3 separate regions of the Homo sapiens genome follow, and regions 1 and 3 are each reported to be linked to region 2. The links are microRNA targets in miRTarBase. Many come from high-throughput screens and were not tested one by one. Region 2 holds a microRNA gene; each other region holds the end of a gene's coding sequence.
The links. The annotated mature microRNA hsa-miR-8072 reads GGCGGCGGGGAGGUAGGCAG and lies in region 2 at 2,979-2,998, opposite strand. An mRNA with a match to its seed (bases 2 to 7 or 8) in the 3' UTR can be bound and repressed. Matches are read on the target gene's strand: a 7mer-m8 pairs with bases 2 to 8, a 7mer-A1 pairs with bases 2 to 7 and ends in A, and an 8mer does both.

Region 1 (4,067 bases), not on the chromosome of region 2:
AGACGCCCACGGTGCCTGACTCCCCCGGCTACATGGGGCCCACACGGGCGGGCAGTGAGGAGTGCGTCTTCTATACCGACGAGACCGCCTCACCCCTGGCACCGGACCTCGCCAAGGCCTCCCCAAAGAGGCTCAGCCTGCCCAACACAGCCTGGGGCAGCCCATCCCCAGAGGCAGCCGGGTACCCCGGGGCAGGGGCCGAGGACGAGCAGCAGCAGCTGGCGGCCAACCGGCACAGCCTGGTGGAGAAGCTGGGGGAGCTGGTGGCGGGTGCCCACGCACTGGGTGAGGGCCAGTTCCCCTTCCCCACTGCTCTGTCGGCCACCCCCACGGAGGAGACGCCCACCCCACCCCCAGCCGCCACCAGCGACCCCCCGGCCGAAGACATGCTGGTGGCCATCCGGCGTGGGGTCCGGCTCCGCAGGACCGTCACCAACGACAGGTCGGCGCCCCGCATCTTATGATGGCGCCACCCTCCCCATCCTCTCAGGCCCCAGTGCGAGCAGGTGGCCTGGTCTGTGAGCCGCAGGCACTCAGAGCAAAGGCCCAGCCAGGAGAGAGGACAGAGCCAGGGCAGAGGCCATGCCACTTTATGGAAAGACACCTCACTTGGATTCCAGCATTTAAACAGGAAGTGACTTCTTAGCAAGCCTGGCCAGGACGGAGCCTGCAGGCCTGGGCCTGGTTCGGGGTCTGTTTTATGCTCTTCGGTCCCTCCTCTTCCTCCTCTGGGGCCCTGCCTCTTCCCTACCCATAAGCACCAGAGCCAGGGCCGCTGCCCATGACAGAGGGGCCAGGCTGGCCTCCCTTTCACCATCCCGGCCTCTCCCAGGGCTGGTCCTGCCTCAGCTCCTCCTGGAATGCTGGCCCCCCTCTCCCCTGCCTGAGCCCCCTCCTCCCCTCTTGCCTTCTCTCTGCCTCTCCCAGGCCCCTCTCCCTCCAGGAGGCGGGGCGGCTGTGGAGGGGCCAGGTGCACGCTGGGCTGGATGTCTGCTGGGGGCTGGGGGCCAGGGCGGCAGGTTGGAGTTGGGCGGCCAGGCCCCCCGTGTGGGAAGGGAGTTCCAGGGCCCACGCCAAGTCTCAGGGAGGAAACCAGGGGCTGCTTGGGGGGGGGGGTCTTGGGGGCCCTGTGGTGGCTCCCACCCCTCGCCTCCCCCACCCCGTGAGGCTGGCTGGAGGGGGCCAGAGCAGCTCTTTGGAAACTAGGGCAGCAGGGTTAGGAGGCCGGAGGCCCTGGGGTCACCGGCCAGCCACACAGGCACCGTTTTCAGATGTCCACTTCTCATTGGGTACATCAATCTTTTAACTTTGGGGGTCACAGTTTTAGCCACCTTTCGGGGGGTGACTGGAGCAGTAGGAGGTGTGGGGTCATTTTATGAATATAATAAAATGGAGCTGACTGTGGACGAGGACTAAGTGTGGGGGAGAGGGGACGATACAGGGTGTGTGTCTGGGAGTGCCTGGGGGACAGGGACCCCCCGGTGGTCCTATGGCAGGATGAGAAGGGAGGGACTTGGCTCCCCCAGAGCCCGGTGGAAGCTACTGTTCTCTCCAGTGTCTCGAGCGTAGCCAAAATAAGGTTGGGAGGCTCCCGGCCTGTCTGCTGTGGTCTGAGCTGGCTGCAAGCCCAGGTGGGGGAGCGAGTCTGGGAAGATTGGCTTTGACTCTCTGTTGCCGGAGGAGATGCCATCCCAGCACGGCCCCCACTGTAGTCCAGGCTCGTGGTGGCAGCGGGGGCAAGGGGAGGGGCAAGGCTGCCCCCACCCCACGCACCAAGTCACGCCAAGTCTCAGCAGGTAAAAGCACGTGAGCCTAGGGCGAGCGGAGGGAGTCCTGGTGGCCCCGCAGGTCAGGAGGGAAAGCAGGGCTCAGAGGGCATCGTGGCCCCAGGGCAGGGTCCTACCTGGGGGTCAGGAGCACCTTGGTCTTGATGATTGATTGATTGATTGATAGAATGGAGCTGGGTCTGAGCCTCCCAGGCTTGAGCTCCTGGGAGTTCTTGTGCGGTGAGCTGGGCAGCTCCTGGGTAGGTCCGGGCACCAAGCAGGCCCTGATGTGGACAGAGTCCCATCAGAGGGAGCTGATGAAGAATGGTCCCTGTAAGTAAGTCACTAGGTTCAACAACTGCCTGGCCGAGCACTCAGCCCGTGGAGCTCAGGCCAACACCAGAGCCCCGGTTTTAGGGGCCAGGAGAGCAGGTGACCAATTATTTGGGGAGTCTTGGGTAGAATTTCCGCCACACATTCTCCCCAGGGCTGCAGGGGTCTTCCGAGGCAGGGCGGTGGAGCAGGATTCAGGATGTGGTGGGAATAGAGTGAGGGGCAGTGGGTGGGCAGACCTGGGCGTCAGAGGTCCTGATGGGAAAGGAGGCAGGGGCTACCCAGAGAGGGGGGCTCGTGTGGCACAGCCCCCACCGACTCCGCCGTCCCCCTCCCCTGTGAGCCCCGGGGGCTGTACATACTCTACTCCATCCCCTTGTCCATCCCTGAGACCACCCCCGCCGCCCTTGCGTCGACTTAGCAACCACCTCATAGGCCCACCCACCTCGGGATCCGAGCCAACCATCCCACATCACAAACTTTGGTTTGGGGGACTTTACGTTCGTTTAATTTCTCATTTTGTACGGAGAAATATTCTTTTCAAAAGCGTCTTTTGACTGAAGTAACTTTCCTGGTGCTGTTGTTAACTCGTTCCTTTTTTTAATTTATTCCCCCACCCCAGGCAGCCCTCCTGGTTCCTACTCACCCTCCCCCCCTCCCCCACCCTCCGTCCCATCTGAACCATTTGTTTCTTTTCTTTCCGTCAGATTTTGGAAAAATTCTCCTCTCCTCCCCGCCCCCTCCACACCATCCTCCCCGATTTAAATATAGTCACTGCTACAAGTAACAGATGCACTGTGAAGATTCCAGTATTAATAAAGGTGTACTGTAATTAACACCCCTGCCTCTGCCTGGCTGCTTCCTACCCCATCCCCACACCTCACCTTTCCCACCCCAGATCCCAGCTGCAGGGGGACAGGCTGGGGGTTCCCAGAGGATCTCAGATCTCAATGTAGGTGCCAGGGCCAGACCTGGGTCTCTGAAATGTCCCATATGTGTCCCTGCTAGGGGCTGCCTGGGGGCAGCCAGATGGAGGGAGGGAGGGAGAGAGGGAGGGAGGGAGAGAGGGAGGGAGGGAGGGAGGATGGCAAGGGTCAAAGCCAAGGTATCAGCCCAACACCGCCTCCCCCAACCCAGGCTTGCAGAGGCCCCTGGGCTGGGCTGGGCTGGGCTGGGCTGGGCTGGGCTGGGCTGGGCTGGGCCGGAACTCCATCCCTGGCATCCCTCTCATTCCACATCCCTTGGGCAGGCTCCATCCACTCCAAATCCGCATCCTCAGCCCTGCCCCCCTCCACTTCCTGCACTTGGCCACCTCCCATCCCCGCCAGGTTCACCCCTGAAGATGCAAAGCAAAGCAAACCAAAGGAAGTGGGGTGTTTAATAGAAAAAAGAAACTGGAAGAGCATCCACTATGGCAAGATGTGGCACTTGGCACCGCCCTCTGCCCCCAGCTCCCCAGTCTGCCAGGCTGGGGGGTCATAGAATGGCCACGCCGTGCTGGCTGTCTCCCCTGCAACCCACAGCTGTGCCCTCACTGCTGCGGGCCACAGGAGGCTCAGTACCCCCTTTAGGCGGGGGGACAGTGAGGGCAGCACCAGGAGAAGCCAGGAGCTGTGTCCCCATCCACCTTCAGGTCCCCAGGTCCCCTCCGCTCCAGGTGAGGCCATGACAGCTATGGAAGGCAGGAAGCTGAGCCCTGCTGTGGCACAGAATCCCCCTCAAAGGAAAAACACCCTTCCCAGGGGTCCTCTCCCAAGGGGGGCTCCCACCACCACCCCTTGAAGTCTCAGACCCAGTTGAACTCCTGTGGGAGCTGGTCTGGCTGCCCCTATCCGCAGTCACCATCCAGGGTGCTCAGGGCAAGAGGCCCTCGCCCTGTGCCCTGACCGGCCTCACCGAGCCCGTGGAGTGAGGCGGGGAGCTGGGGGACCACGGGGGCGGAGGGTACAGCTGGGTGGCCGCATACTG
Region 2 (4,067 bases):
TGAAGATTTATTTAAGATTCTGAGGCCAGGCGCGGTGGCTCACGCCTGTAATCCCAGCACTTTGGGAGGCCGAGGCAGGCGGATCACCAGGTCAGGAGTTTGAGACCAGCCTGGCCAATATGGTGAAACCCCGTGTCTACTAAAAATACGAAAATTAGCCGGGCATGGTGGCACGCGCCTGTAGTCCCAGCTATTTGGGAGGCTGAGGCAGAATAACCGTTTTAACCCAGGAGGCAGAGGAATGCAGTGAGCCAAGGTTATGACACCGCACTCCAGCCTGGGCGAGAGAGCGAGACTCCACCTCAAAAAAAAAAGATTCTGTTGGGCGTGGTGGCTCACGCCTGCAATCCCAGCACTTTGGGAGGCCGAGGCAAGCGGATCACGAGGTCAGGAGATCGAGACTATCCTGGCTAACATGGTGAAACCCCGTCTCTACTAAAAGTACAAAAAATTAGCCGGGCGTGGCAGCGGGCACCTGTAATCCCAGCTACTTGGGAGGCTGAGGCAGGAGAATGGCGTGAACCCGGGAGGCGGAGCTTGCAGTGAGCAGAGATCGTGCCACTGCACTCCAGCCTGGGCCACTGAGCGAGACTCCGTCTCAAAAAAAAAAAAAAAAAAAAAAAAAAAAAAAAAGGATTCTGACGGGGGGGCCAAGGGCGGTGGCTCACGGCTGTAATTCCAGCACTCCGGGAGACAGAGGTGAGTGGATCACTTGAGGTCACTAGTGTGAGACCAGCCTGGCCGACATGGTGAAACCCCTTTCTGCCAACTACATAAAAAAAAATTAGCCAGGTGTGGTGGCACATGCCTGCAATCCCAGCTACTAGGGAGACTGAGGCAGGAGAATTGTTTGAACCCTGAAGGCAGAGGTTGCAGTGAGCCGAGTTCATACCACTACACTCCAGCCTGGGCAACACAGCAAGACTCCGCCTCAAAAAAAAAAAAAAAAAAAAAAAAGATTCTGAAGGGGCCAGGCACAATGGCTCATGCCTGTAATCCCACCACTTCGGGAAGCGGAGGCCAGAAGATTGCTTGAGGCCAGTAGCTGCCTCCCAACATGGTGAGACCCCCGCCTCTCAACAAAAAAATTAAAAAAAAAAAAATTAGCTGCTGTAGTGGTGCACATCTGTAGTCCCAGCTACTCCGGAGGCTGAAGTGGGACGATCGCTTGAGCCCAGGAGTTCAAGCTGCAGTGAGCTATGACCACGTCACTGCACTTCAGCTTGAGCAACAGAGTGGGACCCTGTCTCAAAAATTTAAAAATAGCATAAATATTCCAAACGCAATTATATGGAATAAGTTGGAATGGAAGATAAAAAGCAGAAGCCAGAGAAAAAAAGTAAAGTCGTCTCCCATCGGAAAAATTTTGGAAACAACTTCTTTAAAAGATGAGAGAAAATGTTCCCTTGCTTGCAAAATTAATGTCCCACTCAAGTCACCAGTAGGAAATTCTGCTATCTTCTGTGCAACGATGATAGCTTTCCCTACGCTTATGAAAATCAATTCTGATTGCTAGAAAATATGGTGGAAAATAGAATCCCTCTGTACTGTCAGCTCGCAGAATTATCTGAAAGTGTTAAGTCAATTCCTGCTAGGGCACTCCGGATGACAGTTCTCTGCACCCTTCTGGATGACTCTTTAGAAACCATATTCCATCCCTAATTCTGGCTGTCTAGAATATATGAAACATTTAACTCAACATAAAATGATAATAGCCAACTTTCAAAGGTCAAAGGGGACCAGTTTATAACCTTCCCTCAACACGTGTTCAGTACAAACTTCCGGGTGCACTTACAATTGGCTGCGCAATTCAATGGATAAAAACGTTGCTTTATTTGTCTCTCATTTTCTGGCCCGTTCTTTTCCCACGTTTCTCAACCAGCGACTCCCCAAAACAAAAGCCTCCCACAGTAAACCGAGCACGCACATAAAAAGAGCTTCTCTGTGCGAGGATCAAGTTAGTGGTCCGCAAACATTAACCAAACAGAAGCACAAAGCAGGGGTGGGAAGGGGAGGAGCTGGATGCCAGGGTCAGGAAAGAAACAATCAGAAGGGTTTAGGAACATCCAAATCTCCTCAGCGGTTAAACCGACCCCAAACCACTTCTGGGAAACCACCGGTATCCACTGCTTTGGGGAACTCTGGATGCTCGTTATGCCAAACGCTCTCAAAGTAAGCAAATCCCCAACTGCCGTTCCCCTCCATGGGTAATTCTTAGGGTCTGGGAGGTGAGCTCGCCCGCCGAGGCAGAACTAAGCGAGTCGCCTGGAGAGGCGTGAAGGGAGCCTGCACGTGTCCCCCGCGGCTTCCCCACCGCCCCAAGAGCGGGGCATGTACGAGACCGCGCTGTGGGGTTCAGATTTAGGAAGGACGACCGCGTCGCCTGCCTCCCTCCCTCGCCCAGAGCCGGGAGCAATGCTGGGGCACGAAAGAGGACTTGGGAAGGATCCGGTCCTTACTTTCCCCGCGGGTCCCGGACCCGCAGCCCCCGGGTTGTGAGGCGGAAGCCAAAGGGGCGAACCCAGCGGAGCCGGCGTGCACAGACCCTGCCCCGCGGTCCAAGAGGGGTGCCTCCGGCCCGGGACAGCGGGGCTCCCGGAGCCCGAAAGCCCCACGAGCGGCGACAGCGGGGCCCGGCGCTGACGAACAGAGGAAGCGAGTACAACGGAGCCGCCGTCGGGAACATGCCCCCGAGGGCCCCGGAGCGCGCGGCCGCGAGGAGCGGCAAGCGGCGAGGGAGGCCCCAAGCCGGGGCGAGGTGGCTGTCCCCCCAGCCTGGCCCCGCACGGCCCCCCGAGGGTGGGAGTGGGAGGCTGTCCGGGAGGGGGAGTGTGGAAGGAGAAAAGGGCCAAGGGAAGGACTTACTTTCCCCGCGGGACCCGGCGCCAGCACAGCTCCTCCCGGGAGGTGTGAGTTTGAAGGACCAGAGGCGACTGGAGCGGAGGCGGCGGTGGCGGCGGCAGCAGCGGCGTCCTGCTCTGCCTACCTCCCCGCCGCCATCTTGACGCCCCTCCCCCAGCCCCCCCGCCCCGCCGGGAGGGGCGGGGGAGGGGCAACGGATGAGGCGCCGCGCGCACGCAGCGCCCTCACGTGACTTCCTCCCTCCTCCCCCACCCGCCTCTCTGCGCCCCTCTCCGCCCCGCCTCCCTCCTAGGTGAAGGAAGATGATTTCCCCCCCATCTTGACCACCCCCCAGTCTTCGCCGCCAAAAACGGACTCCGCCGGCTATCCTCGGCCCGGTACCAGTTGTTGGATCCAAGAGAATTCCGGAACCCAAACGGTCCATTACCGCGGCTCTGGGGTGGGCGAGGGGTGAGGGGGCCGGGTTTCCGCGAAGGGGGAGGGGGAAGGCGAAGGCCACCTAGGAGAGTCACGTGACTACTGTTTCCGCCGGCGCTCACGGAGAGCTCGCGGTAATTCCGTTTCCCCGCCCTTTTTTCCCCGCGGCCTGTCGGGAAGAAGGTCCGCGTGCCAGGGCTATCGGGAGGTCGGCCGGAGGGCCGCGCGCATGCGCCCCGCGCCTGCTTTCAAACTCCGGTTAGGAAGGGCCTGGAGCTATTTTCAGAACCTGTTAGGGTGGGGAGCTACGGCCCAGGAAGTTACCTAGCAGCGTTTCTGTCACTTGGAAGATCTCTTCATTACCTAGTTAGTCCTAGAAACAAAATGTTTACATATTCATTGCTTGTTAGGCTCGCTCAAAGCACTTTATTGGCAGTGAAACCGCAAGTAACCCGGAGCCCTCGGCGCGACCACGGCTAGAATCAGAGCCTAAGGCGTGTGAGCTCAGCCATCCCACGTCTGTCTTCACGCTCATACGCAAGCCCGACACACCGGGGCTCCCACTTAATGAATACTGAAGAGTAGGGCTGTCCCTACCGCTTCTCACTTCCTTGTTTTCATCTTTTCGTTATTATTAAGCGACCTAACACAATAAACATATTACCTTGTTGGTAACCCTTTTGTAAAGTCATTCTGAAAGTGCTGTTTGACTCCGTTGCTTGGGTAATAAGCACGCCTGGGTGATTCTTGCCCCCTACTGGCTGCGCATCCTACAAGCCTAGTGCTGA
Region 3 (4,067 bases), not on the chromosome of region 2:
CCACACAGGAGGCTGAGGCAGGAGGATCCCAGAGTTTGAGCCTGCAGCAAGCTACGTGCCCCTGCACTCCAGCCTGGGCAACAGAGCCAGACCATGTCTAAAATAAAAAAAAAAATAAGTAAGATTGATCCCGTACTCTACGGCCCTTCACAGCCAGCCCCTCTCTTTTCTCGTTTGCAGGATGTTCTGGAAGCTTTCCCTGTCCTTGTTCCTGGTGGCGGTGCTGGTGAAGGTGGCGGAAGCCCGGAAGAACCGGCCGGCGGGCGCCATCCCCTCGCCTTACAAGGACGGCAGCAGCAACAACTCGGAGAGATGGCAGCACCAGATCAAGGAGGTGCTGGCCTCCAGCCAGGAGGCCCTGGTGGTCACCGAGCGCAAGTACCTCAAGAGTGACTGGTGCAAGACGCAGCCGCTGCGGCAGACGGTGAGCGAGGAGGGCTGCCGGAGCCGCACCATCCTCAACCGCTTCTGCTACGGCCAGTGCAACTCCTTCTACATCCCGCGGCACGTGAAGAAGGAGGAGGAGTCCTTCCAGTCCTGCGCCTTCTGCAAGCCCCAGCGCGTCACCTCCGTCCTCGTGGAGCTCGAGTGCCCCGGCCTGGACCCACCCTTCCGACTCAAGAAAATCCAGAAGGTGAAGCAGTGCCGGTGCATGTCCGTGAACCTGAGCGACTCGGACAAGCAGTGAGCGCCGGGCCGGACGCAGCTCAGCCCCGCGCGCGCCCGGCCGCTGGGTGGCGCCGCCGCCGCCTCTGTCCCTGCCCTCCGAGCCCACTGTCACGCTGCCTGGTGTTCCCCCTCAGCAGCAAGCACTTCTCTTAGGGCTGACGGTGTCCTTGTCACAGACGTGGATCGCAAGTGGAGCTTTTGCTGATGTGTTCCTGACCGACCCCGGGTCCCACCTGTGCCCCCTAAACCAGGCGGTGGATCAGGCCCGAAGGAAAATGCTGGAAAACCACCACCGCCACCCAGCAGTCAGAGAGGACCTTTCGAGGTGATGCACTGTAAATCCGGCATTGATGTTTCCACCATGTGGAAAAGCAAGGATTTCCCTGGCCCCGCCCTGCACTCCAGCTCGCCCCTTTCCCGCGCGAAGTGAAGGATGCGTCACTTTTCTGAGCGGCCCCTCAGACCTCTCCTGCTGGTCCCTGGACCTCTGGCTGGGAGCGCTCATTCTTGTGACTGGCAGGCTGCCCTCGGTCGCTGCTGTGATGAGGATATGTGCAACCTCCATAAATATGTCGGTGGACGGGGCGTCTCCTAATAAACCTGATACCAAGAAGACAACTTGAGCCACTTGGATCCCGAAGTGGGCTTCCCGGGAAACCTCGAGCAGAGCAGGCTACACAATCCCCCATCCTCAAGTCCCCACCGCCTCTTCTTCCTCACTGTCCCCGCCCCCTATTTGTGGACTAAAGATGAACTCTGGTGTGCATGCTATTATTGCTGCAATTAGAATATTATCACACACAAAGGTCTCTATATTAACGCTGGTTTTATAAGTGACCGTATATTGTAAAGAGCTGTTAAAAAGTATTATAGACCTATTCATGTATTATTTCACATGTTTTGACTCTGGCTTGCAGCACCATTCGGAGTAAGGATGACAGCAGGCCCAGAAGGTGTCTTACTCAGAAAAAAAAATGCCTGGTCAGCAATTCACTGTCATGCACCTATTTTTAGATTGGGCAGGGAGATGGGAGGAGTCGTGATTTTTACTTTGAATACTATTTCACTGACGTTACTAAGCATTGCAGCACAATGTAGAAATTGGCTTGGGATGGATAGGTATAGGGAAGGGCATTCGTTGGGAAATTGATGACCGGAAACTAGAAAGCCCCTATAATGTGGAATATGCATATGTGGGGTGAAACCGTATACTACTTTCACTGCCATGACACTAGGCAAAAAATATTTCCTGTTAAAAGAAAGAGAAAAAGAGAGGGATATTGAAAAATATAAGGAGTTGAGTCGCTTTGTGGTATAGAAGGGAGTAAGGAATAAAAGATATAGAATAGTAATCTAGTTGAACTGTTCTGCACAAAACATGCTTCCTTTTCAAAGAATAGACTTCAAAAGGGACGAACAAACATTAGGTCACCTTTTGTGTTTATAATGAATTGTTGACGTTTCCATGCTGTGGTCTCTTGATATACGGAAGTAGACGTAACTTATTTTCCAGCGAAATTATATACTTCTTCTGGGCTCCTTTGCTCAGTTGCCCCAGGAAGGCTTCCCTGTGAGTAATGCTTATGGAATCTGACAAATGTGAATGAGCTGCCATTGGTGGGAATCAGTAAACTTTGAAAACCTTTCACTGATGATTCCCTGGTAAGTGCTCCTGTGAGGGGCCACTTCCCTAGTATGTGAGAGAGACCCTCTGCAAGCCGCTGTGGGGACTTAGCTTCCTGATACTAGGTAGTGATGGTGGATCTAGAGACATTCACTTGAAGAGCAAGGATTGGGGTGGGGTGGGTTGGTGAATCTATCTCAGGCCACTGCACTGCAAGGTGCATTTCTGTCATTTCTGCAACACCATGAGACCTGAGCAAGAATGTGCTGTGGCAGAGGGGGTCTTGGTTTCATAAATGGGTATATACAGCCTGAACTCAGGAGGCAGAAATCAAAAGAAATCCTTGAGGGCTGGAACCTGAGGATAGAGCGAAAATGGAGAGAAGGGTGTTCAAGGTCAGGAGTGATTTTTGCATTTGGTGGAAAACCTCAAGTCAGACTCAGTGGCAGAACATGCAGCAGAAAAGCTGTGAAGGAAGGAAATTTACGTGATTGTAATGGAGGCTAGGGGTGGATTGGGAGGTGAGTGGAGGAGAGTCTCTGACCAGCTGCAGAGCCAACCCCTATCATTTTATTAACATGGAACCCACACAGATAGGGGAGGGATTAAGCTAAGAACTTACAGAATGCAAACACGAGCACACTCTCTTCGAACCCAATTGTGGGTGTAGCAATGAAAGCAATATGATATGCTGCAGTGTGAAGCTCCTTCTGGGGTTATCGTATGTACAAAGTTTACCTTATAATGGCTCAAATTGTATTTAATTTTTTTGTTTTGTTTATAAATGAAGAAAAGCTATAAGTATAATGTAATTATTTTATAGGTATACTATTAAATTATAGAACAAATAAAGATAATCTAGGATTATATGTGATCCCGGTGTGACGTGCCATAAAAGTGGAATTTTTGACTTGTTGCAGTGAGCTGTGAAGCAGCACTATGCGTTCAGAGAGTTTTTGTTCAACCATGGTGAGTTCAACCTCTAGCTTATGTCACATGATCTCCTTTGGGGTCTGGAATCTTCTAAGAGAAATAGAATCAGGCATCCAAGGAGCAGAAGTGATGGAGGTGGCCCTCAATCCTGGTCTTTGGAAGCTTCCAAGCCTCTTCCACATCCCCTGCCAGCTGAAGACAGAGTATTCTCACTGTGCTGGCTGAAGGAGAAACACTAAACAAGGAAACCTTGAGAAACTGCAGCAATGGAAGTCCACTGTTAGTCTCTCCGTTAGCACCAGGGACACACTTGTTCTGAGTTTTGTTCATTTTCACATTTACTCCTCATGAGTTCCAACATTTCTTAATTTAAATATTTCTTAGTTTATAGCATCTCCATTTTTCTATTAATTGACTTAATCTGCCATTTAAGAAAACTCCGTAATCAATAAAAAATAAAATCCACAATCAAACTGCACATGGTTGATCCACTGTGTAGGCTTCAAAGGAATTAAACTCAACTTCCTAGGAAATAATTCATCTTAGTTTATTAAATGGGACAGAATATTTCACTGCTAACGTATTCTAACTCACTTGTTTTTGAAATTGGCCAGATGATTTTTAAGTTATAAAGTCAATGAAAATGACTTTTGCTATTGTGTGAACAACTTAGAATGTATATATTCCCAGAAGGCTTATTTAATGATTGACCTATCACCACTGATTATTAATGTCTGCATGAATGATAACAATAAGACCAAGTCATCAATAATGCAATGAAAATTTTTTAAGTGAAAGCAAGTTTATTAAGAAAGTAAAGGAATAAAGAATGCCTACTTCA

Region 1: the mRNA of MTSS2 is a reported target of hsa-miR-8072. Seed matches in the 3' UTR shown: 7mer-m8 at 2,498-2,504.
Region 3: the mRNA of GREM2 is a reported target of hsa-miR-8072. Seed matches in the 3' UTR shown: 7mer-m8 at 741-747 and 7mer-m8 at 744-750.

Annotation. Positions count from the first base shown.
Region 1 is chr16:70,660,074-70,664,140 of GRCh38, reverse strand. MTSS2 (MTSS I-BAR domain containing 2) reads left to right here. Exons shown (of 15, transcript NM_138383.3): 15 at 1-2,937. The coding sequence ends at 464. IL34 (interleukin 34) reads right to left here. Exons shown (of 6, transcript NM_001393494.1): 6 at 3,459-4,067. The coding sequence ends at 3,954. Among named protein-coding and RNA genes, the nearest start is that of IL34, 16 kb to the right of the region's middle.
Region 2 is chr12:123,361,836-123,365,902 of GRCh38, forward strand. It overlaps MIR8072 (microRNA 8072), which reads right to left and starts at 3,008; the gene lies at 2,929-3,008. It overlaps SBNO1 (strawberry notch homolog 1), which reads right to left and starts at 3,012. Exons shown (of 32, transcript NM_001167856.3): 1 at 2,866-3,012. SBNO1-AS1 (SBNO1 antisense RNA 1) reads left to right here and starts at 3,113. Exons shown (of 2, transcript NR_157806.1): 1 at 3,113-3,280; 2 at 3,690-3,969. RefSeq lists enhancers at 1,678-2,396, 2,053-2,102, 3,563-3,772 and silencers at 2,583-2,692, 2,733-2,812, 2,923-3,162, 3,293-3,392.
Region 3 is chr1:240,489,590-240,493,656 of GRCh38, reverse strand. GREM2 (gremlin 2, DAN family BMP antagonist) reads left to right here. Exons shown (of 2, transcript NM_022469.4): 2 at 181-4,067. The coding sequence starts at 182. The coding sequence ends at 688. Among named protein-coding and RNA genes, the nearest start is that of GREM2, 120 kb to the left of the region's middle. RefSeq lists a silencer at 271-442.